Linked DNA regions of Homo sapiens: all the other regions are linked to region 2. The links come from fine-mapping of genetic effects on gene expression. A gene starts in region 2. Each other region holds a variant in brackets. All regions are shown on one strand. Distances are between the middles of the regions.

What was found. PIP is the estimated chance that this variant, and not a neighbour inherited with it, causes the effect.
Region 1: its variant is fine-mapped to the expression of SLC38A4-AS1 in whole blood (INTERVAL, PIP above 0.99).
Region 3: its variant is fine-mapped to the expression of SLC38A4-AS1 in whole blood (TOPMed, PIP above 0.99).

What each region holds. Positions count from the first base shown.
Region 1 is chr12:46,479,875-46,490,511 of GRCh38, forward strand. The region is part of intron 3 of SLC38A4-AS1 (SLC38A4 antisense RNA 1); the gene reads left to right. The region is part of intron 1 of LOC124902923 (a long non-coding RNA gene); the gene reads right to left. Among named protein-coding and RNA genes, the nearest start is that of SLC38A4-AS1, 100 kb to the left of the region's middle. RefSeq lists a silencer at 10,112-10,406. The variant C/G (reference allele first, on the strand shown) is at 4,620.
Region 2 is chr12:46,379,333-46,389,969 of GRCh38, forward strand. SLC38A4-AS1 (SLC38A4 antisense RNA 1) reads left to right here and starts at 4,344. Exons shown (of 4, transcript NR_125380.1): 1 at 4,344-4,363; 2 at 8,415-8,640. RefSeq lists enhancers at 3,708-4,215, 6,909-7,410 and silencers at 3,770-4,129, 4,280-4,349.
Region 3 is chr12:46,431,592-46,442,228 of GRCh38, forward strand. The region is part of intron 2 of SLC38A4-AS1 (SLC38A4 antisense RNA 1); the gene reads left to right. All of the region lies in intron 1 of LOC124902923 (a long non-coding RNA gene), which reads right to left. Among named protein-coding and RNA genes, the nearest start is that of SLC38A4-AS1, 53 kb to the left of the region's middle. The variant T/C (reference allele first, on the strand shown) is at 6,053.

The DNA.
Region 1 (10,637 bases), 100 kb after region 2:
CTTCTAACACAAATCCTGTCATCAAGCAGATGCCCAATTAATATTTGCTGGATGAATTAAAGAGAAATAACTTGGATTCAGGTATTAATGATAATTGATTATTATTAGCTATTGGTTCATATGAATAGTTGGTGTTCGTTGAGCATGCTTAACATTTTATTCTATCTCTTTCATCCTTAAAACAACCAATTAAAGACCGGCAGTATTATCCTCACATTACAAATTAAAATCTGAAGCCCCTGAAAGTTTAGAATAACTTGCCCAAAGTTATGTAACTGCTAAACAACAAAATCAAAATAACCTGGGGCTACCTAAGTGAAACACTCATTCTTTTAATTTCTATACCAGGTATGATGAACTTTCTGGATCTCTTTGTTCTCATAGAGCCTTCACAGAAGGTGGGTAACCAGAGAGGGATGTTGCTTAAGTCAGAGTCATCCTGAGCTGAGCCGTTATCTGTTCACCTATAAGGCCAGCTTCCATTTGCTGGGCCTGAAATGGAGCTCAAGACTTCAATATTTTCTTCAGTTTGTTTGGATGTATGTCAAAAAGCTTTTCTGAGAGTAAGCCTCCTAGTAGGTGCTGACCGAATGCTCCAGCAGTGGGCTCCTGTGTACCAAAGGGACATTGATTGATGGTGTCCACAGAGAGAGGGACACGAGGAGTCTGGAAATTGAGGTGTTGATCATGCTTTGTCAGGAGGCATTTTGCATTCTCTTTGTGATTACTAATCCATTTGGGGAGTGGCCTTGTTTTTCATAATATTTCAGGAACTACCACAGTGAATTGTGATCCTGGGATTTACATTATCATTGTAGCTCAGTGGAAATTCTGATAGACTATTGTTTCAGGACATTTTGGGGATTCATAGTCTAGTGATTTGATGTGACTTTAGGGATTTTGATTATGCCATTTTGGCCTGTGCCAGTCATCTTTATGATGGGTTGAACAGTTAAATAGAATGTCTTCCTCTTGTAAAACTCCAGACATATGCCAGATTTCATCTCATGTATTCTTCACTGCATCCGTCTTGGGCAAGAGAGTGGCAATTGTTCATTCTTTTACAGTGAGAAGGACAATGGGGGCCAGAGAGGTTAATTGGCTTACCTCATTGGGACATCCAGATTACAGTAGCTCAACATCATGAGTTTATGTTTCTGAATCAGACTATTTCATCTTACTGGAAGTGAAATGCACACTTTATATTTAAGGGTCCACAATTCTTCCATATATTTGCATTCATTCATTCATTCATTCAATGACTATGGAGAAACTACTCTATGCCAGGTACTGAGGATAGAGCAGGAAATAAGACAGACAAGCTGTTAAGGAACTGATATTCTTATTGAACAGAGGGAACAGAAAACATCACGTAAACATATTTAAATTTTTCATTTCAAATAGTAATGTTCTATAGATAAAATAAAAACAGAATAACAGGATAGAAGGTACCTGGGATAGATGAAGAAACAATCACCAAAAAGCTTCCATTAGTTGGTATCATATGAGCTAACAGCAAAAGGATGAAAAAAGCCAACCTTGAAAAATCTAGAGGAGACCATTTCAGACAGAGAGAACAGCAAGGGCAAAGGCCCTGAGGGTAGAATGAGACTAGCATGGTCAAGGGCCAAAGAATAGAAATGCCAGATCTTACAGACCATGGTTCAGAGGGATACCTTAGAGGATTTTTAAGCAGAGAAGTGATGGGGAGTTCATCTTTGTTATGACAAGATCTCTTCGATTGCCATGCAGAGGTGGACTGAAGGAGGCAAAGTATGAAACAGAATAGGAAGAGATTATTGCAGTGGTTCAATGGAAGATCATTTTTTATTTTTAGTACTTAATTATGTGTCAGACATTGTAAGTGCTTTCCACACGTTTCTTATTTAATGCTCACAAAATTCTACAATGTAATTATCTTCATTTTTTTAGATAAAGAAATAGAAGGTTCAGAAGTTTAAATATCTCATACAAGGCCACTTAATCTAAGTGGCAGAACCAGGATTTAATTTCAAAGTCTGTACTGTTAAATGTTCTTTTCTAGCCCTGGCATATCTTAATTGTCTGCTGGGCCATTCCCCATGGATGTCCCTAAGACACTTTCAACCTATTATATCCAAAATCAAACTCATTGTCTTCTTCCCTAAACCAATTTTTTCCCCTTAGTTCCTCAATTATATTAATGGCATCACTCAGACTCAGTAATCCAGGCTAGGAACACTAATGTCTTCTTAACTGTCTTCACACTGTGCTTTTCTTCATTAATCTGCATCAAATTTGTTGCATCCTTTTATCCATTTAAAGTATTATCTATCCCATTTCTATTCTTACCCTCATTGCCTTGGTTTGGGTCAGTTCAACAATTCCAATTCCAACTGACCCAATTGGGGAAATTTATTAGTTCCCCAATTCCTATTTCTGTCCTCTGTAATCTATATTCATCTTGCCTTTGGGTTTAGTTCTTATCCTAAACCCAAGTTACATTATCCTCTTCCTTTTCAAATTCATTCCCCATTGGTCCCCATTGCTCTTAGAATGGAATTCACTCTTTTTAGCATGGCAGTCAATTTACTAATAATGGGTAGTTCATTTGTTGCTCTGAAGATTGCTTATTATTTTAGCTTTGACTTACTTTTTTTTGCCACTGATAACTCTCACCACATATAACCAGTCATGCAAAGAGGAAGGTTAGGAACACGCAGTCCAGCAATTCCTGATTGAACTGTTTAGATGTCCAGCATGAGCTATGCTAACCAATGGATGAGACACAGTGTTCAAGGGCCAATAGGTGTTTCCATAGCCTCCTGGTAGAGCTTGTTGACCTAACAGGTCTGGGAAGCCACTCAACTGGATGCATTTTTGTTGGATTGAATTGCATGGAAGGTATACAAAGAAAGACCTGAGTTTTAATGACACACCAAAAAGAAAAGGCAGCCAATTCTTATGGATAGGAGTCCTTTTATTTAAAAAGTAAATGGAGATTTCTGGACAGCAGGAAATGCCCATTGCGTGTGAGATTTATCCTAATTCTATATTCAGTTTTGTTTATAGGCAACAGGTCCCTGTGGGTTTAAGTACTGAATAGAGGGCTAAGAAACAGGGGAACTGTGTGGTTATTTTCTGAGTTGAATTTTCAGACTTATAATTTAGGGATTTAATTCTGGTTGTTAGAAACCAGCCAGCATTCTCTGTCTTTAAGCACTGGTAGTCACCAGGCAAATATAAGGTGAAGTCTTTTCTGGCTTAACCCCAGTAAAGATTTCTCAAATGTATGGTGGTTTTTTTTTCAGAGATGTTCTCTGGCCTACTAGATAATGAGAAAGAACATTTAATAATAAGTTATTTTGTTCTACCATTTCTCATTAAAGAAATAAGAATTTTTAGTCTGTTTTCAGTGATGCTGAAGGAGATAAATTGTTTTCTGCTAGTTTTAAGAACTGTGCTAGCAGTTGTTCCCTTTTTTATTTCACAGAATAAATAATAGTTTTTAAAGATAAGGTAGCAAAGCTCCGTATTTTCTATATTTGATTTTAAGGTGGAGGATAATTTTTTAATGTCTGTAGTATAAGTGAATTATAATTTTAAGCAAAATATACATGTTTAGCTGACAATCTTGTATTGTACAAATAATACTATAACAACAATAACAGAAATCAACCAAGAAAAAAAGAAAAGAGAAAAAAGTCTCTTATCTTGCCATTCTAAAATCAGCTGTTTTAATGTTTCCTTCCAGTTACTGTCAATATGTTATCTAATTTTCACATAGTTACAATCTTAGCATAGACAAGACTTTATAATCTTTTTTTTGCGTCTAATGTTACATAAGCCTTTTTTTTCCACACCCACTTCACATTTTTAAACCCTAATGTGCTTTTGTAATAAAATTGCTAGACAATAATAGATTTCTTCAAAAAGGGTCACTAAGTTCTGGAAATGAAAGGTTTTCCTTGGATTTCTCAACATTACCATATTGTGGTGAATCACACTTTACTGTTTCAGCTAAAGACAACAGTCTGCCAGGGGTCAAACAGAGCTCCTAAGATAAACAGTCCTAGGACACAAAGGGCCATAACATCATCTGTGAATGCTGAGACCTCAATTCTCCTTACCTGTTCTAACAAGAGTACAAAGCTCATTAGATTTTACCCTTATGTCATTGAAGCTACTGCCTAATTTAATGGCAAGTAAAGTAAATGCATCTCGGGCCTTTGGTTTGCTACATTTACTAGGTACTCAATAAAATAAAGGCCATTGATAACTTTAGCATAGATTCTAATGACAATGCAGAACCTACTGTGCATTCAGTCTTCCCAAAGCTCCCAAGCTATTCCACCAAGGGAAAGACCGTTTTGTCATTAGAGGCAAAGGGAGGGTTTTTTCTTTTTTTTTAAGAGACAGGGTCATGCTCTTTCACCCAGGGTGGAGTGCAGTGGTGTGATCATGGCTCACTGCAGCTTTGAACTCCTGGGCTCCAGGGACCCTCCCACCTCAGCCTCCTGAATAGCTAGGACTGCAAGTGCGTGCTAGTACTCTTAGCTATTAGTACAGGCCTGGCTAATTTTTATTTTTATTTTTTTTTGTAGAGATGGGGGTGTGAAAGGAAATGAAATCTTGGGACC[C/G]TAAACTCATTAAGCCAAAGGGAAAAGCTGGGCCGAGAACTGGATGATGCAACCTGCTTCCACCTTTTTGCTTCCTAAATAAGATGGCTACAAGATGAAAAGCTATACATCTCTGCCATATTTTGCCCACAAGGAAATTCCTAGTGAGCTTCAAGATCTTTTAAGGTGTTTCTGTTAAAATTTCACAATTTCGCCATTGCAATGTAAATTTATAGCTTATCCTTACAGGTGCAGTCATCTCCCTGCCCACCAGACACAAAGGCATATCTGATTGTTCTCCTGCCCCATTTTGTCTATGTTATCTTATGTAAAATACAGATACCCTGCATTTTTCCTCTGCCCCATTTGTCTATATCACCTTATATAAAAAAATGCAGAGTCACTGAGCCGGACAAAGGCATGAACGACTATTTTTCCCTACCCCCGCTCTTACATGAAAATTGTGTACTTCTGAATATCCTGCCCTTTCCCCTTTAAATTTGGAGCCCTCAGAATCATCTTCAGAGAAAGGCATAGACCTGTCTCCCGGGCATACATCCTTAACTGTGGCAAATAAACCTCCTAAAATGATTGAGACTTGTCTCGTCATTTTTCTCGATTGATATTGGTCTCACTATGTTGCTCAAGCTGGTCTCAAACTCCTGGGCTCAAGTGATCCTCCCACCTCAGCCTTTCAAAGTGCTGTGATTACAGGTGTGAGCCACTGCACACGGCCAGGAGATGTTAATCAAAGGGTTTACATGCTGTAAAGGCGATGTATAAAGAGTTATAGGGATCTTTCGTTTGCTTTTCCTCATATTTGTTGAGAACTGTGTAGGAATTTCCCATGGATTTGATATTTGCCCATTAACAGACACCAAGAGAAGTAGTCAGAAAACATTCCCTAAAATAAAGTGTGAGCCAACTCAGTGGTCTTCTTTGGAAGAGACCTGAGGGGAGGGAAGGTCACGTAGTGATAAGCAGGGATGCAGACTATGGGGTCTGACTCATGAACTTCATATGTCACAGTTAATAGTCAGAAGACCATGGAAGGTCACATCCAGGCACAGGGACCTGGTGAGGCGTGTGTGTATGTATCTACAACACAGAAATTAAGATGCGCCAAAGAGAGCAAGTGACAGGGCTCTCTCCCTATTTCTCACTTGGCATATGAGATGACCTTCAGGAGCTTCTGTTCTGTATGTCCCATTTATTAGACCAAAGTGTTCTAGAGTTTAATGTGCTAATATTCATAAGCTTTGTTAATTACAACATTATCATCTCTGCTGTCATCATCTTCATCAGCCTCAGCCAGGGAAGACCGAATGTCCTTGGCCAACGAGGCCTGCAAAAATATGAATTTTACCTCAGGCTCGCCTAGTTTTTAAAAAATAAATATTGCTGATAATGATTTACTGGCATTCATAGATGAGATGACAAACTGCTCATCAGGCCCCCACTAATGCAAGGACGCAATGGCCAAATGACCAAATACTGGGCTGTTGCTTACAGGACAAGCTGGATATGCTTACTTCCACTCTAACCACAGCTGGGCTACTGTGGTTTGCTCATTCATTCATTCCTTCATTGAGGAAGTACTGGTAGAGTGTCTACTCTGTGTCAGGTATTGTGCTAGAGGCTGGGCTCTCTGCACGAGCAAAGCAGGCGAATCCTGCTGTCAATGAGCCTTCTGGTGGAGAAGACAGGTGTATTCTAAAAATCTCATACGTAAGTGCAGAAGTAAATCTGTGTTGGGTGCAAAAAAGGAGACTGCGGGTGCAGAGGAAGGGGTGGTGACCTGGGCAGAGGCTTCTTCATGAAGTGATGATTGACCCATGGCTGGAAAAAAGATTAACAAAAAATTGCAGACATTTACGAAGTGGGCATTATGTGCCAGTCTCAGATTTTAGTGCTTTCTATGAATAATCTCTGTGAAGTATGGACTCATGTTAACATACAGGTGAGAAACTTAGGCTTAGATACAGTATATAACTTGTTTAGGACCCCCCAGTGGGTGAGTAGAGGAGTGGGTTTTGGAACTCAGTTTGATTCCAAAGCCTGGGGTCCTAATCACCATGATATAATGCTGTCTTCTATTCTCCCTGAAGTAGAAGTTAACCAGGTGGAAAGGATGGTGGGAAGGAAGTACCAGGCAGGTGGAACAGCATGTGCAGAGCCCAGAGGTGGAAGAGAACTGGAATTATGTGAGGAAGCACAGAGAAGACACACTAGCCAGGGCATGTGGGTGGGGGAGAATGTGGGGTGAGGCAGGGAGGTGGGCAGAGCCAGGCCACATATTGCCTGAACAGTCAAGTCAGACTGTGGCCCTGCCCAAGAGGAAGTCACTGCAGGGATCTAAGCAGGAGTGACCATGATCAGAGTTGAGTTTTGAAAAGGTCACTCTAGCTGCAGTGCAGAGCTTAGAAGGGGGCAAAAGCAGATTTGAGGAGACAAATTAAAAGCCCTTTGGTTGGGGGTGAAGTTGAGAGCAATAGAGGTGTAGAAGCAAGTCCTGACTTTTGAACTTTGGCAGTTTTGATGGATAATGATATCATTTATCGGGCAGGGAACAGTACAGGATGACACTGTTTGGAAGAAAAGGTCATGAATTTGATTTGGGCAGGTTGAAGTTGAGGAGCCTTGAAGGTATCCACGTGTTTTCTAGTAGGTAGTTTTATATATAGCTTAGGAGCTCAGGAAGAGGTTAGGGCAGCAGACAGACAGACATTTGTGGGTAATTCCAGGAGAGGCGGTAATTGTGCCCATAGGCATGGGTGACAGGGTCTAGGGAGAGAATCTTTGTATTTTCACTGCCCCTTCCTATGCTTTCTTCTTTCTAATTTGCTTCTGAGGAGTATGTGTCCTTTTTCTTTGTCAGGTTAACCCCTCTAACTGCCAGCCTGATTCCCTTGACCTTTCCCCATCAATTCTTCCCTTGTCATTTCCATCTTCATTCTATAATCCTCTATCAAACTCCCTAAAGTCCATTTCTGTGCTGTGTACCTACTCATTTTTCACTATCTTGAATGCTGACTTTTCTATTCTCAGCCCCACTAAAGTGTCTTTTTCAGAGGCAACTGTTGACCTATGCACTGGATCCAAGTGCTCATCTCAGGCTATGCGTCTCTGGCTTCTTCTTAGCATTTGATTGTTGCTTCTCTCATTTAAGCATCCCCCTCTCTGCTTCCCTGGCATTCTTTTCTCAGTTCTCCTTTCTCTTTACATACTTCTCTTTCTACTTCTCTATACATGTACGTGTCCTCCGGAATGTTTTCTTCTTCCTGCTTCTAGACCTACACTTGCTACCTCAGCTATCTTGTTCAATCCTGTGGCCTTAACCATCACTCCCATGAGGATAGTACTCATATGTATCTTTCTTGCCAGGACCCGAGTACCTCAGACCCGAATATCCAACTGATGGCTAGACACCAATGGCATCTCAAACTCAGCATGGCCCATACCAAATATTTTCTTTTCCTCTGAAACAAGTCAGTGTTCTACACTGTCAATTTCAGTTGAGTTCCTCTTTTTTCATTAATTCTCTTGAGTGCTACCATACTTCCTTTTACTTCTTACCATATTTCCTCTTACCTCTTGCCTGGGTGCTTTGCAGTTGTCTCGAAACCAGTCTTTTTCCTTATTCGATTTTGCTCTGAATGAATTGTCTCTCTCTCTCTCTCTACACACACACACACACACACACACACACACACACACACACACACACACATATATTTCTTTTTTTTTTTTGAGATGGAGTCTTGCTCTGTCACCCAGGCTGGAGTGCAGTGGCATGATCTCAGCTCACTGCAACCTCCGCCTCCCAGGTTCAAGCGATTCTCGTGCCTCAGTCTCCCAAGTAGCTGGGACTACAGGCATGCACCACTATGCCTGGCTAATTTTTGTATTTTTAGTAGAGACAGGGTTTCACCATATTGGCCAGGCTGGTCTTGAACTCCTGACCTCATGATCCGCCTGCCTTGGACTCCCAAAGTGCTGGGATTATAGGCGTGAGCCACCAAGCCCTGCCGAATTCTATATTTTTACTTTAAATGAACTGTATACTCAATCCAGATGATATTACTCCTTAGCCTAACAACTTTAATGATCCTCTATTGTCACTGAATTAAATACTAACCCTTAGCCTGTTTTTAAGGACCCTCTTAACATGATGCTGGCATAGCCTCCCACCTTTATCTCCTAATACCATCTGACATATATGAGCCACATATGGCAGCCTTTCCTACAGACTGTGTTACACTTGAAGGCAGACATCTGTGCCTCAAAATCCTTGTATCACCTATACTTCACACTTAGAACACAGTAGTTACTCACTAAAGTTTTGTTGTGTGCATGGAAAATTATGTACTAGTTCATATGACTGTCTGATAATTCCCAGTCCTTGTGTTTGCTCGTGGGGTGCTTCTGACATGGAGGGACCTCACCTTTTTGTATGCAAAAGTGGATGATGTAGGCAAAAGTGTCATTTAAAATTGTGAATTTATATCTGTATCTATAGCTATATTACCAGTTTATTAAAAGTCTGCTCAACCTTTGACTTAAGAGCCATTCCATTTTGGGAACTTCAAAGTGCCTCTCTTTCTTACTTTAAAAAAAAATTATTTTAAGTACTATAGAGCAAGAAAATTTCATGTGGTCCCTAACCTTATATCTGTGTTGTATTTGATCATGAGGTTTACTTCTGTTAGACCTTTGATTCTTAAGAGTAATTTGAAGACTTGCCATCCCCTCTGGTTCCCCACAATCTGTTTCTGATCCCTAGTTCCCTGCAGTATTTCCCAGCAATCGGCCACTTCATTTAGCATTTTGTGAACTGGGGTTGCGTCTTGCTCAGATTTAGGTCCCTGAAGCACTTAACATGATGGCTTACCCATAGAAGTTTCTCAATATTTGCGGATCTGAATTAAGTGAAATGATATATATGGCTACCAATATCTTCCATTCTAAGTGAAAAATGAGTCAAAGATTCAGACCTATGTTTATTTTGTTTTCAATAGCCAGAGAAAAAGTGACAATGATCTTCTCATGGAATTGGCAAAAGGAGCAATGTAACCATGTGTACCACAAAGAGTAGCTGTCTCTGCCATTTGGTTTGGAGAATAAATGAAATGAAGCCATTATGAGGGCGGAAACATAAATATTATGCAAAAACAGGCATGTTTCGGTGGAGTTAATCTCTGTGCAATCCTTTCCTTCCAAGCCCAGCAGCTCTGCTGGATTCTAGTTACCAACCAAGCCCTGGGCAGGCCCTTCAAATGCATCATGGCCTTGTTTCTATCCCCAGGCTGGTAAGTCAGTTACATAAAATTACATGTTGTTTTCAGGAACCTGTATTTGTGATTTGAAGTTGGTCACTCCTTAATTGGCTAACAGGTATAATTCTAGAATTTTCCTAATTATTCCCATGAATATAAAATGTTTTGAACCTTGTAGGATTTTTTTTTTCCTCTGGGATGTGATTTACTCCTGGCTGCTCTTTTTCAAAAAATAAACTGGATGATGGCCAGAATCATAGGGTGAAAAAATAGCCCTGATGAAAGTGTTCTGGACAACTCTTCCAAAGCAGCCACTGGATTATGGGAAAAACGTTTACAGGGAGAAACCACAGAGCATGGTAAGCAGGTTCAGATTTGGTCATCAATAAGTCTATTGTTCTTATCTGGGAACCTTTTTGTTCATGGAAGTCCTTCAAAAGGGCCACACCCCTTCAGTTCTGTAGAGGTTCCCAGACAGTGACTTGGGGTGGAAAATAAAAGGAGGACTTTTTGTTTCTGACGGGGAGCTTCGCCAGGCCTTACTAGGGACTGATCTTACTTATAGCAGTGAGGCAGGCACATGGTCGATGTGCATATGAGCTGCAACGCAGAGGTCACTCCCAGGCTGGGTCAGGTGTCATCTGAGTTAGGAGATCCAAGTGTGAGGACCAGCAGCTCTAAGTGGGAAGCAAGTTATTTTATTTAGTCCCCAGGATATTTATTTGTAATATGAGTACAATAATTCCTGGGTCTAGCCTCTTTC
Region 2 (10,637 bases):
AATGTTTAAAATTGGCTAATAAAAATTGTATCTATCATGTACAACACGATGTTTTGAAATATGTATACACTGTGGAATGGTTAAATCGAGCCAAATAACATAGGCATTACCTCACATACTGATTTTTTGTGGTGAGAACAGTTAAAACCTATTTTCTTAGCAATTTTCAAAATACAATACATTGTTATTAACTATAGTCACCATGTTGTACAATAGAGCTCTTGAACTCATTCCTCCTATCTAACTGAAATTTTGTTATCTTTTGACCAACATTTCCCCAAACCTCCTCCCCTCCACTCCCTCAGTCTTTGGTAACCATCATTCTATTCTTTACTTCTATGAGTTTGAGTGTTTCCGGTTCCACATACAAATAAGATTATGTGATTTGTCTTTCTGTGCCTGACTTTTTTCCACTTAGCATAATGTTCTTGAGGTTCATCCATGTTGTTGCATTTCCATATTTTTAATATTAATCTTTCCAGGTGCCTGAGGAAATTCTTGTCTCAACTCTTTTTTTCTTTTTATCATTTTGTATATATTATTCTTGGGATCATATTTAGAAAGTGCTTGATAAATGAACGGTTGTATTCAATCTTGTAAGATAGCTCTCAAGTCTAAAGCAACAGTACGGACTCTGGGAGTGCTTTGCTGACTTTGGCATGTTTTTCTGGTGTTGACAGATACTCTATTAGATATCAATTGCTATGTAACAAATTATTCCAAGACTTAGTGTCTGAAAGCAACAATAATTTATTATCTCTCGAAGTGTCTATGAATCAGGAATTCAAGAGCAGCTCTGTTGGGTGTTCTGGCTTTAAGTCTTTAATGAGGTTGCAGTCAGCTGTGAGAGGGCTCTAGTCATCTGATGGCATGACTGGGGCTGGAAGATCTTCCAAGGTCATTCACATGTTGGTAAGTTGGTGCTGGCTGGTTGCTTCCTCTCCAAGAAGGTGTCTGCACAACCCTGACTGAATGTCTTCATGACATGGCAGCTGGCTTATCCCAGAGCAAGTTAGCAAGAAAGAGCAAGGCAGAAGCTGCAATGCCTTTATGAACTAGCCTTGGAAGTCACACTTTATCATTTCTACCATATTCTATCAGTCACAAAGGCAAGCCCTGATTCAACATAGAAGGGGACTACACAAGGGAGTGCATACCAGGAGGTAAGCATCACTGGGGGCCATTTTGGAGGCTGGCTACCACAGAGAAGTTGTCAGCAGCAAGAATATTTTTATTTTATTATTTTATTTTATTTATTTATTTATTTATTTATTTATTTATTTATTTATTTTTATTTTACTTTGAGACAGGGTCTCACTCTGTCGCCCAGGCTGGAATGCAGCAGTGTGATCAGAGAGCCCAGGTTCAGGTGATTCTCCCACCTCAGTCTCCTGGGTAGCTGGGACTATAGGCACAGGCCACCACGTCTGGCTAGGCTAATTTTTTGTAGAGACAGGTTTCAGCCAAGTTGCCCAGGCTGATCTCAAACTCCTGGGCTCAAGCAATCCACCACCTCAGCTTCTCAAAGTGCTGGGATTATAGGCATGAGCCACTGTGCCCAGCCAGAAAACATTTTATGGCAATAAACACAATATGCAATTGAAAGTGGCTTAAATAATGACACTATCTCACATAATAAGAAGTATGTAGAGAGCACAGTTCTGGGGTTAATTCTTGGCCCTGATACCTCCCTCCAAGACAAAGAGCTCATTATATTTTCACTTTGCTTTCTTCAACATGCTGGGGATCTCTCCCATCATGGTCACATGTTGGCTGCAGTGGTTTTAGGGGTCATAGGCAGACAGGACCACATCCATTGCAAAAGAAAGGAGCGTCATTTTGTGAGTTAATTTTATTTTGAGAGATAACATTTCCTGGAAATGCTGTTATTGTTGTCTCAGATCCCACTGGCCAGGACTGGAAAACATAGTAATGCCTAAAAAATATATTATATTGTAAATCCATATATTTGCAAGCATCAGTATTTTGTAAATGCATACCTCATTTTTCAGCAAGAAAAAGAAAATTAAGGGGCCCACAGAAACTCAGTCTTAAAAAAATTTAGAAATATGGCTGGGCGCGATGGCTCATGTCTGTAATCCCAGCACTTTGGGAGGTCGAGGCAGGCGGATCACCTGAGGTCAGGAGTTTGAGACCAGCCTGGCCAACATGGTGAAACCCCGTCTCTAGTAAAAATACAAAAATTAGCTGGGTGTGCTGGCAGGCGCCTGTAATCGCAGCTATTTGGGAGGCCAAGGCAGGAGAATTGCTTGAACCTGGGAGGCGGAGGTTGCAGTGAGCCAAGATCGCGTCATTGCACCGCAGCCTGGGCGACAAGAGCAACACTCCGTCTCAAAACAACAACAAAAAATTTAAAAAAATTTAGTTTTACAGATACTTTAGTACAAACATACCCAATTCTGTCAAGACTGAAGAACTTTCCAGGGACCTAGTATCAGAACTCTGTTTCTCCCATCTCCTTCCCAAATAAAAGAGGGGAAATAACGGCTTGACTAATGACCTTCTTGTGATACTTACCTGTTGGCCTTTTCATTTGACCCTGGAATGGTCTATTTTGCTAGGTGTAGTATATGCCAATGAATGTGAAAGAAAACAATGGCAGAGAGATGAAGGATTTATAGACAATGGTTCTTTGGCTAGGTAAACTGACACCTGCTAATTACCAATAAGTGTCTTGGAAAGTGAAATGTGAAAGCAAAATCACAGATACGATTCTCATATACATGCTTAAGGTTATTCAGAATGTGGTAAGGTCACAGCAACAATCAAGAATTAAGCTAAAAAACAAGCTGTGTATATTCTTAGTAAAGAAAATAGAAGTTTTATTGAAGTGCTCCATTGTTTTAAAAAATTAAAAATTTCAGATCCTTACAATTTTCCAAAACAGGATCATTAAAAAATACCTTTATTTTAATACTTGTTAGGGGTCTTCTTGTCTAAAGAGAAATGACAGTGACTGAAAGAAGGTGTGCTACCCAAAGCACTCGTAGGCCACGATGAACCTACATTCCTGGCCTTCAGTCAGTTTCCGGATCTTTCTTTGCCCAGGGCTAAGATACTGAAATAACGATTTATTAAAATTAACACACCTGCAATTCTGGTTCTTAGATGGGAACCATTTAATATATGGGCTTGGTTCTGAGATCTTTACTCAATAAAACTCCCAACTGTTTTGACTGACATCGTTGGCACTTCGTGACTGATTAAGGCACCTGCCTCCGGTTCCATGTCACTTCGTCTTGGGACACGTGGCGCTAATGCCACTTTTCAACCCCCCACCCCATTCAGCGACATTAACCCGGGCGACAGTCCAGGGCTAAACAGTTGCTGAAACAGTTAAATGTGTGTTTTATTGAGGTGAACCACGTACACAACAACCCCCTTTGAGTGAAACAATTTTGTTGTGTAACCATTTGTCACTTCTACATGGATGAGGTCAACGAAATCCTCAAAGTTGCTGTCTCAGGAATAAATTTTGTTCGTGGTTGGGAAAACGAAGTGGAGAATGTTATGGGATAGAGAAAATAGCTTATTTTCTCAGTGGTTAAGTGGGAGTGGGTAAAACACAATTGGCCTTGCATGTGCTTTGTTTAAACGGCGGTGCAGTAATTCTAAATGAGAAGACAAGACGCCCATCGTCACCGTCTTCTCCCTTTGTCTCACATTCCGCCCGGAGATGTGGGGGGTCTCACTCAATGCGGAACGGAGGTGGCGGGGGTGCGGCGCCCCAGAGGCGAAGGCGGAGGCGCCAGGACGCCGCTCCTGGCCTCTCAGGATACCAGCAGGCTACACGCAAGGTCGGGGGCAAGGCCGCGTGGCGGCTTGGAGCCGCGCGAAGGAAGCGAGGGCTGGCGGCCCCAGGGCAAAGGGGTCTGGCGGCGCCAGCCTGGGGCGCTGCAGCGGGCGGGGCGTGCGCAGCGCCGCTCCCCGGAGAGAAAGGAACCTCCGCAATGTCGGGGCCCGGCTGCGACCGGAAAACGGCGGGGGAAGAGAGAAAAGGAGGAGGGAGGGGGAAAAGGAGGTGGGGATACGAAGGAGCGGGGAGGCGGCGGGCGGGGCCTGCGGCGCGCAGCCCCAGTAGATCTCCGGAAATTTTCCACTAACGCTCCGAGCGCCAGAGCCGCCCGGGCGCAGCCCGCCTCTGCGCGCCCGCGACCCACGTGACGGTGATTCATTCGGCACCGCCTCCCCAGCCCGCGCGCGGACTTGGAGCCAAGAGTGGGAGCAGGGGTCGGGGGGAGGAGAAGGTGGAGGAGGAGGCGAAGAGGAGGCGGGGAGGAGGCGGGGAGGAGGGGGGAAGGGTTCGGGGAGAGGGAGGAGGGGAAGCAGAGGGGACGATGAGGTGCGGAGGCGTTGGCAGGTACCTGGGCCCCGCCGCCCGGGTGTGTGGGGGTCGGGTCGGGGGTCCAGCAAAGCCCCATCCAGTCGAGCCTGGGCAAGCTGAGAGGCTGTCGGGTGCGCTCCAGTTACGCTCCCCTGCGTCGTGGAAAACCTAGAGAGCCCTACAGCGTCAGGGCTAATCCCGGGACGCCTCGAGGCCCCGCGGAGTTTTCGCGAACGCGCCGGGCGGTGCAGGGATGTCCTGCTTGGGAGAGTGCAGGGTTGGAAGCGGGCACGCCCTGTTGGCAGCTGCCGGCGCTTGTGTACGTGGCTGCTGACGTGGAGAACTGTAGCTGTGGAAAGCCTGCGCCCCAAGGAGGGACGCGGGGGTGCAGTCGCGGCCCATTATCTGTGCCCGGGAAGTCCTGAAGGCTCTAGGAGCTGTCAGATTAAACCCCCAGACCCACAAGAAAATCCCTGAAGCTTCGGTGAGCGTGGGATTTGGCGTGCAGTTGGTTCCGTATGGTTCCCCATTAAGACTTGGAAGTCGGCTTACCAAGATTTCCTCTTACCCTTCGGCTGTGTTGAGTAGATATTACACAGACACCCCGCCCATGACTCTGCTCTTGCAGGAAAACATTTATTTCAAAAATACTGCAACGGTTTCATCTCTCATGTCCTTTTAGGTTCTTTCTAGTAATTGTGAACTTTTCCTCTCAAGTCATTCCATCAAAGTCTTGGAAGCAAATGAAAAAAACATACTACCCTGAAATAGAGTTCACATCTTTCTTTACCAACTTGCCTTTCCCAGGAAGACATCGTGGTGGGTTTGCAGTTCAGGTTTCCTCACAGCCTCTCCTGGGGGTCTTTTTCCCTCTCTGGTACCTTGAGGCATAGGACAGAAGGGAGCTGCTGAAGTTTCTGGATGTCGCTTATTTTTCACATTTGTTTTAACTTCTTTTGGCCAGAACTGTGTATTGTTTTCGCATAGATTTCTGCAATTAGAATTATTGTAATTAGAAAGAATAATAATCTTCATATAAGGCTTAGGGTACGCACTACTTTAAGGTCTTTGTAAATGTGTGCATATTCATTTCTCTCATCAACTCTGAGGTAGGGGCTATTCTTACCCCATTATTGACCTTTTACAAATGAGGAAACTGATGCTTGGAGAAGTTAGATAACTCGCCCAAGGCCATTCCTTCTCTAAGAGGAGGAACTGGAATTTGACCCCAAACTGTCAGGTAAATCCAATGCTTTGTTCACTATGCAATAGAAATTCTTTATTAATAAATTTAATTGTGTTGAAATATTAAGTTTACATTTTGGTGGGATTTTCCCCCTCGTTTTATTAAAGTGGCCTTCCTGAATTTTATTGTGGAGGGATGTTTAAAGTTAGTTTGGGTAGAAAGCCACACACAATTGTAAAAAGGAAGTCTTATGAAGAAATCATGCATTCCAAGGCAGTGTTACATTTTTCTTAAAGGGTAGATTATTGAAATATTTGACCTAAGAACTCATTTTTTTTCTCAGGAGAAAGGTTTGTCTTCATACACCTTTAGCCCCGAGCAAATGGTGAATCCTCCAGGAGAATGACGATGAGGCTTTTTAGTCTTCAGGGTTCGATAAATATATATCGATTGAAATGTATTCAAAAAGTGAATACCCTTGAAAGGACGATGACATAATGCCAAATGAAAAGGAAATTTCCCAAAGAAACCTAAATAATGGATAGATTTGATAGCAAGATACTACTGGTTTTTTCCTTCTGGAACCTTCTTTTCTGCACTTGAAACCTTCCCTGTCCAGCCAAGACTGGGTTAGAAGCTCCTTTTGTGTGTTCGTGTGGCACCCAAGGTCTGCCCCTGTAGTGGTACTGACCACGGTGTATTCTCGTGGCCTGTTCACCTGGCTGTGCTTCCCAGGAGAGTAAGTGCCTGGAAGAGCAGGCATTCTGTCAGGCTCAACAGAGTGCAACAGCGTGTCCCCAGGGCTCAGGACAGTTGTTTGTCCTAGAGCTATGGGAGTTATTGAGCTAAGCAATACTTGTTAAAAGCATGAGCTTACACAATTGATCAGCCATGTCTTGTTAGGATGTACTGAATTGGAATTTAGCAGAAACTGGGAGAGCAATGTCCCCGTCAGGAAATGTCTGTTCAATCTTGGTCTGTGTATATCCTACTTACCCACATGTTATTTTGCACATAATAGTTTTTTTGATGTTTATTAAGAACAAAAACAGCCTCTTTAAAATTGTGTGTTCAGTTAGCTAACTGTATTTCAGCATCCAATTAATAATCAGAGGTTTAATAACTACAGCCTTAATTCTGGCCTCACAATGATAGAATGATAAAATCATAGGTTTTTTTTTTTTTTTTTTTTTTTTGGCTGAAGGAGATCTTATAACTGCTCTGTCCAATACACAACCACTGGCCACATGGCTATTTGAATGAATTAAAATTAATAAAATTGACAATTAAGTTCTTCAATAGGGCATTTTAATTGCTCAGTAGCCACATGTGACTACTTAAATAAAATTAATTTTATTAATTCATTCAAAAATGGACAGCACTGACAGATAGTTCCATTATTGTAGGAACTGTTATTGGACAGGGCTGATAAGTTACCGAAGGAAAAAAAACAGGTAAAAGAAGATATTTGAGATAGCTTAGCATTAGCATTGTTACATACAAAGAACATTACACTCATATTCAAAGTGTCTGCTGTTAGGTTGGTGCAAAAGTAATTGCGGTTTTTGCCATTACTTTTAATGAGGAAATATTTCGTATATGATAAACAGTTTTCCTTAGCAGTTGTACCTAAATTAATGCACATTTAAACATATTCAGGAGAATGAATGGTTCAAAAGGATTCCTTTTTGCATTCCTTTAAAGTGAATACTCATTCCAGTTGATCCTTTGTGAGTTCTATTTTTTTTTCTGTTTAAACATACTGAAATCAACTTGAGTCACTACACAAGTTTGACATTCATTAGATTTGGCTGTGCTTTTTAAGCTCGCATGATTGAGAAACTAAAATACTCAGTAATGTTGGTAAAGGACAAATGCCAGATAGTTTTGGACAGACCAAATATATATTTAATGACATCACACATGCAATACAGACAGTTCTCAATTTACAAACACTCTTGAGAAGCAGCCATAGGTTAAATATAAAACATACTGGGTGTACCTTCTTTAAAATCCTCTTAAGAACAGTACCACCTGGATATCCATTGTATGAACAAATTAGTATTTAAAAATAATAAAAATAAGTCTTAGAATTAGAGAATGTATAGTTTTGAGCTGTGGAGGCAATAAAGAGGCTGTGTAAAACTCAGGGGGAGTTAGTTGAGGTTATTTCCACAGTAGAGCAGATTTGCTTAAGTAACCCCCTGACAAAAATAGCTTAGTTCCGCCTCCCCGCAGCATGCCTGCCCCTCCCTGCTGTGTGCATTTCCCCCAGTCCTTCAGTCGTTAAAAATTTTCCCATTTCATTTATACTCCAGTTTCAGTTCCGTTGATTCAAAGTTTTGGGACTTAGGACAAGTTTGCTAGCTTCTCTGAGCCTCAGTTTTTTAAACCGTTAAATAGGAATAACAGCATGCTGAGTGCCAAGAATTAAAGAAAAATTTATGTGAAAATATAGATTAGAAAGAAAACTAATATAAATGCAGGGGATTATGATCATAATACTCATAAAACTTCAGTACTCCCTGGGAAGATCCAATGGCCGTCAGTCATGTGCACGTGATCAGAATCTGGGCCATCATATTTTTTTAAGCAAGTTGATGGCCTGAGGGTTCTTGGCCAGGTGGGAGGAGGCTGCTCTGGGATGTTGAAGAGAGATTTTAAAAAGGAGATGGAAGGCTGTGAAAACATAGTTCAAATTGGAGGGAGCTTGGGCAGATACCACCTTTTCTTTTAAGGAATGAATGTAATTGCTTGCATTTTGTCTCTACTTCCTTCCTCTCATTGATTTATTCCGAAGGCTAGAGTTTCTACTTTACATTCTAATTCATCTGACATAGCGTGTTTTTAAAAAACTTAGCATTGCTTGCTTTGATTTTCCAGTTGACTTTTGCTGATGGAGCCTCTCTGAAGGGCAAATTCAAAGTACAGCTGGGTGCTGCAGCACTGGAGTGCGAACTTGTGGCTGTGGTTATGAAGGAGCCTCGTCAGCTATGCCTTTAGCCCCTGGTGAAGCAGTGCCAGTCACACTTTGCCAGTCAAACGGAGAGGCAGCAGTAGTAAGACCAGACCAAATCAAACCAAACCAAGCAAACCACGGGGAATGGAGGTAGGTGAATAGCGCCAAAGAGAATGATGGCTCACAACACTTCTAAGCATGGTGCATATATCAGTTCATTTAAGCCTTATGATGACCCTATGGGGTCAGTACTATTATCGTTATTATCCCCAACTGAGGCACAGAACAACTGTGTGACTAAGCGACTGTACTCAATGTCACACCACTGTTAAGTGATAGAAGTGACATTTTAACTCAGGCAGCTGGATCTGGAGTTTGTCCTCTTAACTACTACATTAGCAATTCTCAAACTTTTGGTCTCAGGACCCCCTTGCAGTCTTAAAAAGTATTGAGGACCACAAAGAGTTTTGTTTATGTGGACTATATGTGTTGATATTTATAGTAGAAATTAAGACTAAAAACTTAAAAGATAGTCAATGTATTTAAAAGTAATAACCAACTCACAATATGCTAATATAAATGACATTTAAAAGTGAAAATAGCTATGTTTCTCCAAGTGCAAAAGGTTGAGAATGGCATCGAAGAATGAAGAATCAAAGAATGGTATCATTTTATAGTTTTGCAAACTTATGCACCATACTGTACCTCTTTTGGTGTGACAGTGGTTAAGAAAAGAGGAAATGAGAGAGACTAAAAGGTACAAGTGAGGGGAACTCAAGACCTGTCTCAGTGAGCCCCTCACACTCTTGTATGAGGAAGAAATGATAACTAAAGAATCGTCTGTAAAGTGTACAGCAGCATCTGGATTTTCATGCCTGGTTTAATCTTCGATAGATTGTCTGGATTCATTCTCTCTCTGTGTGGGTGTGTGTGTGTATGAGCATACACACACATATTTGAGGTTAGGTAAAAAACTTTGTCATAAAATATATGTAAACTGGAAAGGATTTTAGAGATTATCTGACAGTTCTTTTTTTATGGATGAATGCATCTGAGGCCAGACAGGAAAATGACTTATTGCTGGTTGAATTGCTGATTAGTGGCTGGATTGGAGGTAGAACCCAGATCATCTGCCTCTTCATTCTACTCATGTCCTGTCATGGAAATTAGTCAATCCAATTATTATTATTATAGAAGTCTGTTTTCACCAGAAAGTTTGTGAACTGACAACCGTAAAATCTGTGGTAAATTCACAGGCTTCATCAATGACACTATGAAATATTGACCCTCAGCTTCCCAGATTGCAACTCCCCAAGTCTTGGTCTGTTTGCTGTTAGGATTTGTTACAACTTCTTCCTTATTGCCTTTTGTTACACAAGCAGTGCTGAATATGGGCTGGATATTGGAAAGAGGGCAAGAAAATGAGAACCCACAGTTCTGTGACGTGACAACACTGATTGGCCAGTCACTGTTATCTGCAGGATGTGCTTTTCTTAAGGATGAACATATTTTGGTCCACAAGTTTCCAAGACAAGCACATTCCTGCCAACATGATCCTTGGACAAACTGTTCTGGAATTTGAACTTGCTACTGGAAGAGGGTTAAGTCCAGGACACACACACACACACACACACACACACACATTTCAGTGGGGGGCAAGCCATAGTTGGTTATGTTAGCACCTCATTATACAACAGTTTCAAGATAAAGTGATTCCAGATGTGCTCTCAGTAAGTACCTAGTACTTATGTTTTTAACCCATTAGGCTAAAAATCTACTTTCAGAATTTTGGGGAAGCCAGAGTTAGTTAATTAACTAGTCATTCCTAGTTACTTCATAAAGTTGATTCTAAGTCGACTATAATTTGCAGTATGTTTCATGTTAGAGGATACCCATTATAACCATATGAAACATACATATTTATAGACACATATATGTATTTTCACACAGACTTGCCTTTGACAATGATTAGAAGTTCATCTGAAGTACTGGTTTAATGATCATTAGGTTCCTTTGTCCCGGAAATTTCATTTAGAAACATTAGGAAGATATATATCTAAGAAGTAGTATTCTAGTTTCTTCTTATTAATGAAGCTGCAGTGATAGTCATTGTGATTCTGAAGCATAAATTTCATGAGTAAGTCCTG
Region 3 (10,637 bases), 52 kb after region 2:
ACTTTTTAGTGCCATGTTTATAGTCCTGTAGCTGTAATCTTAATCTGTACCTTAAATTTTCCACTGTCTAATTCCTTATATACCATCTTAGTAAGTTACAGTATTGCTATATTGAATCTTCAGTATAGTACTTTTCCAGGAGACTAACTGACAGCAAGCTTCTCTTGCTATTTTAGTTACTAATTCCTTCCCCCACTTTTGGGCAAAAGGCCAAGAGTATTTTGAGGAGATTAAGATGAACCTACAATTTATTGAATCATACCATTAAATAGAGTCAGAGTGAAGTTATAATACATTTGCAAAGTGACATATCTAAAGGGGCAGTAAGCAGCAGACGTAAGCAAAGTCATAGAAATCCATTTATCTGCCAACACATTTATGTAAGAAATTACACTACTGGTCAGGAATTTCCTGCTGTATGTCATTTTTTTTTTTTCTTATGGAACTTTTCAATAGCTTGTAATGGGCTGTTGTGCCTCCTCTTCAGGCTTGGCTGTTATCAGTGCCACTCAGATATCCCTTCCTATTCAGTGTGGAGTGCTTTGTGACACTTATGAATGGGTGCACCTATTTTTTAACTATTAGAATGTTGATTTATATCACAGAAGACTCATCATTTCTGCTTCCCTACACATAGGCCTGTTGTAAGAATTTACTGGTTTCAAACATGTATTAATTATATGAACTTGCAGGAAAAGAATGCCATAAAATTGAAAGCTACATGTGAGTTTTATAAGAGATAATTTTCTACCAAAATAATATGCAAAGGTAATAATTGGGGAAAATTTCTAGGCAGATGGGGAAAGAAATTCAAGTGTTTCTAATTATGTAGATAATGCTGAGTGAAAGGAAGAGCACTGTAGAAGGAATACTTGATGTGTAGCAGAAAACCAGAGTTTGAGTCTAGGCTCTGCCGTCTGCTAGATGAGCGTGGGCAAGACACCTAGGGCTGCAGTCTCATATACTTCAGCTGTAGAAATGGCCACTGAATCATATTTCTTAACCTCTGTTTTATTTTATTAGGAAAAATGTAACACCCCAGGAAATTTTAGTTTGCAGACGTGGTGTAAAACTTTACTTATGCAGCCTTATTTCAGTACGCTTGCGTATACAATCGAAGTATTTAGCACTTCAATGTTTGCAGAGATAATTGGCAAATAGAAAGTAATATAAAATAAATAAGTAGATTTAATGTTTTCTAATTTTCAATGGAGAAATATGGTTATATATATTTTTAAATTAGATTCAGCAGTAGGAGATTCAATGAATTACTTAGCCTCCTAAACATAAATCAGCTTCATCCTTCTCCTTTTTTTTTTTCAATTTTATATCAACAAACTGCCAGGAATGAGAGAAAAATTAATATTTCCTGAGAATGACTTTTGCATCAGTTGCATGCAACTGTTGTAAATTGTATCCTATCAGATATTTTGATTCACCTGAATTAAAACTTCTGATATATTATACCGGCCTAAAGATTAAAAAAAATTTTCTGACTTTCTTTCAGACCTTAAAAATGGATTTAATTTCCAGAAATGCAAGTGTGGGTAAATACAGAGATTATAATGAAATGCTTCATTGTGCTAATGGATAAAAGGGGAAAATCAACTAGAAGTATGTGCTTTTGGGAAGGAAAGGACAAAATTATTACTCTCAGTAGGTGATACAATTGTCTATTTAGTAAAACTACAAAATCAATTGTAATACTTTTTGAAACAATAAAAAATTTAGTAAAAAGACAAGTTAAAAGTTAAAATATATGAAACTCAATAGCTTTCTTATATACCAAACATTACCAATAATAAAATATAAAGGAAAAAGAAATTTATTCTCACTAGAACATACACTGCATGAGGACAGAAACCATTTTTTTTTCACAGCTGCATCCCCAGCTCCTATAACAGGGTCTGACACATAGTAGACACCATAAACATTTGTTGTGTAAATGAATTCGTGGTAACAAAATATCACAAAATTATTAAGAATATTCTTAATATGAAATTCATAGGATCTTTAATCCTATATTTCATGGAAAACTGGTATGTGAATTGAGTTGGTGAATTCTCAGAAAGAAGGATAGTGGTTATATGTAGAATGTTTTTCTCCACCAGACATGGATTCATTCAATAAATATGTTTGGGGATCTACTCTGTGCTTGGCGGTGTTCTAGCCACTGTTCTAGGCACCAATAGACAAAAATAGACAAAAATCTCTGTTGTCATGGAACTTATCATCTCATTTGGAGATATAAACAATATGCAAATGAATAAGTAAAATAGATAGGATGTCAGATGGTGCAAAATGTTAAGGAGAAGAATAAAGCAAAGAAGGGGCTGTAGAGTTCCAGGGTTTGGACAGGGGATGGAAGTAGACGGAAGTGGCAGCTGTGAATAGGGTGCTCAGGCAAGATCTCACAGACAAGGTGGTATTTGAGTAAAGACCTGGAGAAGGTGAGTCATGTGGCTATCGATATTAAAAGCTACAGTAATTAAAACAGTGTGGTCGTAACTTCAAAGAGACACAGAAAAATAGAACAAAATATTGAGTTCAGAAATTGGCTCAAATATATGTGAAGATTTAGCATGTGATAAAGTGGCCAAGAAAATGGACTGTTTTTAAAGAGTGCTGGAACAACTTGCTAGCCATTTTGGGGGAAAAAGGTAAGTTGGGATCTCACCTTATCCAGACAAAAATTACAAATGGATAAAAAGTTTTCATGTTAAACCACACACATTAAACAGCTGAAGAATGTTTAAGTATATATTTTTATACAGCCTTTGACTAGAGAAGGCCTCTTAAAGCATAATAAAGCCAGAAAATGAACAGAATGGTCCACAGATTAGACCATATAAAAGTTTGAGGTGGCAAAAATAAAACAAAATAAATAAAAAATTAAAATCACCACCAATAAAAGTTAAAAAAATACATATTACAGAAATACTATATTTCCTTATTCTAGTCCCCACTCTCTTTCAAAAAATGAACAGAATGGTCCACAGATTTGACAATATAAAAGTTTGAGGTGGCAAAAATAAAACAAAATAAAAAATTAAAATCACCACCCATAAAAGTTAAATTAAAAAAATACATATCACAGAAATACTGTATTTCCTTATTCTAGTCCCTGCCCTCCTTCTGAAGTTAGTGTATACATTTAATGTGGTGATGTCTCTTTCTCCTTGCTCTTAGGAACTATTAAATTGATAGTATATATTCTAATAAACTGCCTGTTAGAGAGCAGACTAAGGTATATAGAAAGCTTTAAAAAGCAACATATTTTTGCATACTCAATAGCAAAAGTAAAAAGCCTATGAACACAGTTCACAAGGAAAGAAATGCAAATAACTAAAAAAAGGGAAGAGATGTTAAACCTTTTGGGTAAAAAGGAAAGGTCAGCTGAAATTGCATTGATATGCAATGTTTTACCCATTGGATTGGTAAGCCCTAAGAGGATTGTTATGGGAGGCAATGGGAATATACAACATTCTCATTTACTGCTAATGGGAGTGTGAATTTGTACAGCCTTTCATTAAAACTGAATATGTTTATGCCTTTTAAATTTCCTTGGATTTTTTTCCCTAAAAGGATATAATTGCACAAGTGTTCAAAGATAAGAATGTATGTACAAAAATGTTTATCTCAGCATTGTTTGCAATAGTAAATAACTGGAAATGATCTTGATGTCCATTAATAGAGAAATGGTTAAATAAGCTACAGTAGAATGCTATGCAATGTGGAATGCTATGGAATGCTATGCAGTTATTATTTATTTATATGGGAAGATGCCCACAATAAATTGTTTATCAAAAGGCAGATTACTACAGCCATTTTGGAAGACAGTTTGACACTTTCTTACAAAACTAAGCATCCTCTTATCATATGATCCAGCAATTGTACTCCTAGGTATTTACTCAAACTTAACTTCACACAAAAACCTGTACATAAATGTTTGCAGTAGCTTTATTCATAGTTGTCAAAAATTGGAAGCAACCAAGATGTCCTCAAGTAAATGAGGATAAAACAAACTGAAGTATATCCAGATAATGGAACATTATTCAGTTATAAAAATAAATGAGCTATTAAGCCATGAAAAAACACTGAAGAATCCTACATGCATATTGCTAGGTGAAAAAATAGCATTTGGCATTCTAAAAGGCTACATACTCTATAACTACAAGTATATGACATTCTGGGAGGGGCAAAACCATGGAGACAGTAAAAAGATCTGTGATTGGCAGGGATTGGAGGGAAGTCAGGGAGGGATAGATAAGTGGAGTGCAGAGAATTTTTAGGGCAATGAAACTATTCTGCATGTTGCTGTAATGGTGGATACCTGACATCATACATTTGGCAAAACCCATAGAGGAATGAATCTTAATATACATTTTAGGTAGTAATGTATCAATATTAGTTTATCAATTGTAGTAAATGTACCACACCAAAGCAAGTTGTTAATAATAGGGGAAATTGGTGGTGAACAGAATGGGAATATATAGGAACTCTCTACACCTTCTGGTTAATGTTTCTGTAGTCCTAAAACTGATCTAAGAAATAAAGTCTGTTAGTTAAAAAAAATGCATGTATGATCCTCTTTTTATAGTTTGTGTGTGTGTGTGTGTGTGTGTGTGTGTGTAGGGGGATGTGTAGAAATAAGTTTGGAAGGATAGCATCAAAATGTTAAGAGTGGTATCTTCCAGTGGTGAGACTGTGAGAGATTTTCACTTTTTAATTTATGTCTTTTTATACTGTCTACAATGTTTTATATTCTTATGATCAGAAATAATACAATTTCATTTCAAAAGCAAAAACATAAGACAACAGCACCAACTAAAAAAGAGAAAACTAACAAGAATAAAGTAAAATGAAAAAATAACCCGTAATTCTACCATCTAAAGATAACTACTATTAACATTTTGGTATATATTTCAGGTTATTTACAATAAATTATGTAATATGTGAAATATATAGATAGATAGATACACACATTAAATACAATTTTACAACACAATCATAGTTTATATATGTTCCACAGTGAGCACATCTATAGGGACCTATCCCAAAGGCTTAAAAGTTATCCAACTGAAAGTTGACTTATACATTTTTCATTTACAAAATACAAGGCTCCTAAGTTGTCTAACTTATCCTGTGATGACTAGTGGCTGCCAGGATTATGCAAATATTTTCAGAAAAACAAATATGCTTAATACGTCTCTTCAAGGTAAAAATGACATTTTAATAGTGAATGAGAAAGCAACTGCTTTTCTAACTTAATTTGCTGTTTTGAAAATGGATGTGGTAGCAGCCTCTGAGGTTGCTGCCACTGATCCCCTCTTCCTGGCATCCATGTCCTTGTCTAATCCCCTCCCCTTGAATATGGGCTGGACCTGTGACTCTAACAAACGTTTGAATGTGACACAGGACTTCAGTTCGTTTCAGCATTTCAAACAAAACAACTTCATATTCACATAATATTTCATAAAATTCTTTCCTATGCATAGTTCCATTCAAGCATCCCAACCTCTTGAAATAAAGAAGAGATATAATATTTGTTTCTGTTTTAAGTGAGAAAATTAAGGGCTCAGAGAGATATTAAATGATTTGTTCAAGGCCTGTCTGACCAGACGGCTTGTACCACAATTCAAATCCTGCTCTGCTGACTTTAATTCTCAGTCTCCTTCATTCTAAAGGACGATTCTACTCTTCAGTCTTTAGACTTTCCAGAGTGGAGTAAAAAAGTGGCTGGCTAGGCTTTTGTGGTCTCAGATTCTGGTACCTGTGTCACTATAGCACAATATTCTAGTCTATATAGAGTGATTCCTCAATTGATGTTTGTTGATAATATGGAAATTTCATTCATAGCAAATTGTGGTGGTGTTAAATACTGTCATTACTTTACTTATCCACGTAACTCTATGTGAGATTAAGATTTTGGTAACTATCTGGCTATTTTGATCAAGGCAGATACCTGGTAATTGATATGTTAAGGCATTTTTCTCCCTGAGTTATTGGATGATGAAATCATAGAAAATTAAACCTAGTAGCAAACATTAGA[T/C]GTGCATATTTGAAGACAGATTTTTTTTATAGCTGTACTATGAGTTATTTTTTTTCTGTCAAATATTATTTATGAGGAATGTTGAGGTAACTAGAGAGGAAAAATGTCATAGAAAACAGTTCCCTTCAGATGATCTAAGAGGTTCATGTTGTATACAATGCACCTCTTATCAGAAAGTTATTGGTGATACCATTTCTTTTCCGGTAAAGCAAAGCAAGTCTTCATTTTTACATATTTGACATCTCTGAGTTACTTACTGATGTCAGAGAGGGCATCCTTGATGTATGTTTATTCATATATTTTCAAAAAACAGTACAGAAAATTTTCCATTACTGAAGAAATAAATCCACAAAAACCAAAGGCTTGAGAATATTCCTTTAAAAAGATAATTTATTGACTTTTGTGCATTGGGGATTAACCAAATCTGTAACTAGAGATTAATCTGGAGAAGGGGGAGAGAGGAATAGAATGTGAATGGGACAGAGGCAGAGGAGGGAATGTGAGGGAATTAGGGCATTAGTGCTGCTGGAAGGGTGTGAATATGACTTGTTGAGGCTTTCTGAGTTTCAGGCTCTGTGCTACGTGCTCTGCATATATATCTTCTTCTTAATCTCTGTAACAGACCTATGAGGTGACAGACATTATTATCCACAGTTTTCAAATGAGGAAACTGGCTCAGAGAGGTTTCAATAAATGACCCAAGATCACACAGCCAGTAAATAGCAGTCAGGATTTGAACTCACAGATGTTTGTACTTCAAGTCTGTGTGCTTTACCGTACTGCATACGTCTGTCTACAGAGTGCTGATTTTACAGATATTTTCCCCAACTTGGCTATTGGTTAACTGTCCAGATTTGTTTTTACATGAGTAACGCATGCTCCAGTTTATTTTTATTCAAAGATAAGTATATATAAAGAGATGTAGATCCTTTTATGGTTTGCTGAAATTTATTTTGAACTTAGTTCTCGTGCATCAGAAATACCTTATTAATTGAAAATAGACCCATTAATTACTGTGTGGGATGTGAAAAAATGCATTCTTTGTAAATTTCTAGTTTTTCCTTTGGACTATGGTAATTTGCATTTGTCCTATGCTTTTGGCAGTAGCCACAGATTTCAAGTATTAAACATAAGTGAAATACTGTATGTGATTTTCTATATTGTATGGGAGGAAAAAAGTCAATCTGGGGGACAGATCCAAGTGATGTGAGACTCCAGCTGAAGGCTCAGGTCCCTCTAGGGAAAGTCACAGCAGCCTGACGGTGTAGGAAAATGGCACTCTGCTGCTGTCAGTTTACTTGGCAGTGCCTGGCAAAGAGCACAGGAAAAACACCAGAGCAGCAATGAGCAGTTTTTCAGCTGCCAGAGAAAAAGTTTCACAAACTGGGAATTTTACAAAGGTACACTAATGTCTGATACTAATTTATTCATCAAATATTTGTTGCATAGTATATGCTGAAAATACAATGCTGAATTAGTCATTGTTCCTGCTTTCAAGGAACACACGGGCCAGACGGGAAGACAGTCTATAAATTTCAGTAAAGGGCGTCAAGGGCCATAGTCACAGGGCCTTATGTGAGCACCTAGGAGAGGTACCTGGTTTCGCCGGAAGTATTGGGAAATGTTCCAGAAGAGGGAATATCTATTCTAAGCCAGACTGTCTATATAATTTGCGGAGTCCAGTGCGAAATGAAAATGTGGATCATTTGTTCAAAAACTATGAAGAATTTCAAGATGGTGACAGCTGAGCATTAGATAAAGCACAGACACTTCTAATTGAATTTCCTTCTACTTAGACTGTAATACCCACAATGGGAAAATTCGAAACCATTGTTTAACAAAATGAACCCACTCTGGGCATTTATGCTGTTTGTTTCCTTTGAAGTATTACTACATAGCAAAAATCTAAGGGTCTACAATAATGTATTTAAATCAGCCTGGTGTGGCCATGATAATTTTGGAAGAACAATATTAGAATGGGTCATGAATGTTTAGTATTTGTTGCATTTCCCCCAGAAAAGGAAAGTTTCTGGGAACTTCAGGGAATATTTAAATACTTTCTCCAGCAGCCTGTTGCCTCTGAAACAAATAATTTATGGAAATGATAAAAAGCAAGTGTTAGTATGTTTGTTGGAAACGAAAACAGAAACCCTACCTGTTGATTACAAAAGCAGAGAACATGGTATCCATGGAATATTGTATTACAGTATTTTTCACAACTACTCACTGTACCCTTTAAAGGTTGTATAATGCCTGCTGGTAGCAAGGTAGCCATACGATTTATAGTAATTCCCTGAGGAAGGACTCTATCTATCCTTCTCACTTGGCCATGTGACTTGCTTTGGCCAATGGAGTGAAAGGACGTGATGTAAGCCATGTCTGAGTAGAAGTTCCAGGCAAATGCTTTAAGGGCCATGGCAGTTGGCACTCTGCTTTCCCCCTGCCACAAGTTCAGCATGTTCCCCGGAGGAGTTCTTTCTTCAAGCCTGGATCCTGAAAGAAAAAGCCATGTGGAGCACAGTCATGGCCAACACATGAAATGTGAATGCGAAGTAAACCTTGGTTGTTAAAAAGCCAGTGAGATTTTTTGGGGTTATTAATGACCATAACTGGGTGAAAATTGGCTAACACAGTGTTTTTATTTATAATAGGGCAATGAGTCACAAATACATCATTTGTCTAAAGGACATTCAGCGATCTCACTCCTCTGGGGAATGACACTGCTCTAATAATGATGATCATATAGGTTTTTCCAGAGGCAGATACACTGGGAATTCTGCTAATGGTAATCTGATCTGCTGGGAAATCAAGCTGAGTCCTCCAGGCATGAGTTGGGTCTAAATGGCTAAACCCCTGTCCTCACTTCCCCACCTGGTCCAGCTGCTTGCTGCCTACTTGATCTTAGACAAGTTGCTAAGCCTCAATTCCCCAATTTGTAAACTTGGAATAGGACTATTTACTTCATAAATTTGTTAGGACAGGGTCAGCTTCTATTTCTTCTGTATCAATGCCATTTTCCCACACAGTTTCTACCCCTCTGATTAAATTAGCTCTTGTTTGACTTTGTCTATCATTTTTAATGTAAAAGAAGTAAGACATTTGTAGATTAATATTGAGCTTCTCTTTGTTTCTCCCCAAGTATCTATTCTTTCTTCAGTGACAACAACTACCTCATAAAGGGTATATACTTTATTTTGATATTGGATATATATGCATATACATACATAAGTTAAAATATGCATAAAACCATGTTCTGTACACAGGAAAAATTTAGGATAAAAGAATTAGTGAAATCTTCTTTTCTTAAAAGGATTATGGTGGGGGAAGTGGGTTCACTTCTCCCTATGAAGCTGTTAATTCTTTTATGTTACTTGGCAAAGCTTGCTTGCTTTCTCTTCCTTTTTTCTCTCTCTTTCTTTCTTTTTCCTCTTTCCTTTCTTTCTTTCTTTCTTTCTTTCTTTCTTTCTTTCTTTCTTTCTTTCCTTTTCTCTTTCTTTCTTTCCCCTCCCTTCCTTCCCTCCCTCCCTCCTTCCCTCCCTCCCTCCCTCCCTGCCTCCTTCCTTCCTTCCTTCCTTCCCTCCCTCCCTCCCTTCCCCCCCCTCCCTCCCTCCCTCCCTCTCTCTCTTTATTTTTTTATTTTCTTTCTCCTCTCTTTCTTTCTTTTTTTTCTTTTTGAAGCAGGGTCTGGCTCTGTCATCCAGGCTGGAGTACAGTGGTGTGATCTTGGCTCACTGCAACTTCCACCTCCCAGACTCAGATGATCCTCCTGCCTCAACCTCCCAAGTAGCTGAGACTAACAGGCATGTGCCACCAAGCCCAGCTAATTTTTGTATTTTTTGTAGAGACAGGGTTTCGCCATGTTGCCCAGGCTGGTCTTGAACTCCTGAACTTAAGCAATCCGCCTGCTTCATCCTTCCAAAGTGCTGAGATTGCAGGCATGAGCCATCGTGCCTGGCCTGGCAAATTTTTCTAATTGTCACTATCGGTCAAGTCCTGTCCTACGAACTGAGAATAAAGAGTGGAACTGGATAGAAAAAGGCCTGCTATCTTTTAGCTTACCTTCTAGTAGGAGGAAGCAGACAATAAACAATTAAGCCAATAAGTAGACCCAATAAAAGGCCAAAAAACATGAAGTAAGAGTCCTTGGGAGAGCTCTCTACTGAATGGATAAGAATAATGTGTTAATTTATAGCTGTTTCAAGGAAGAGTAGCAACATTTATTGAGCACCTGCTAAGTTTCAGCTAGTTTATCTGTACTCTTTCATTTAATAATTGTAATAACCCTGTGAGTAGGTCCATTTTATAGGTCAAAAACTGGACATTCACAACTAGAAAGTCAACTAACTTCCCCTCAATTACCCAGCTGATAAATTCAAGAGTGGACCTCTAATTCTTACCTCCTACTTCTTCCTCAAGCCCAGTAATCTCTTTTAAGTAGGAAAAACATATCTCTTTCTGCTTACCCTCACCTATATCCTCAGTTAGGCTTTTTTAGATTATAAGTGATATTTTTCTTAGAATAAAGTTAAATTTCAGCTTTCCCTGCATTTACAGGAAATATTCTTTAAAAACAGAGCACTGGACT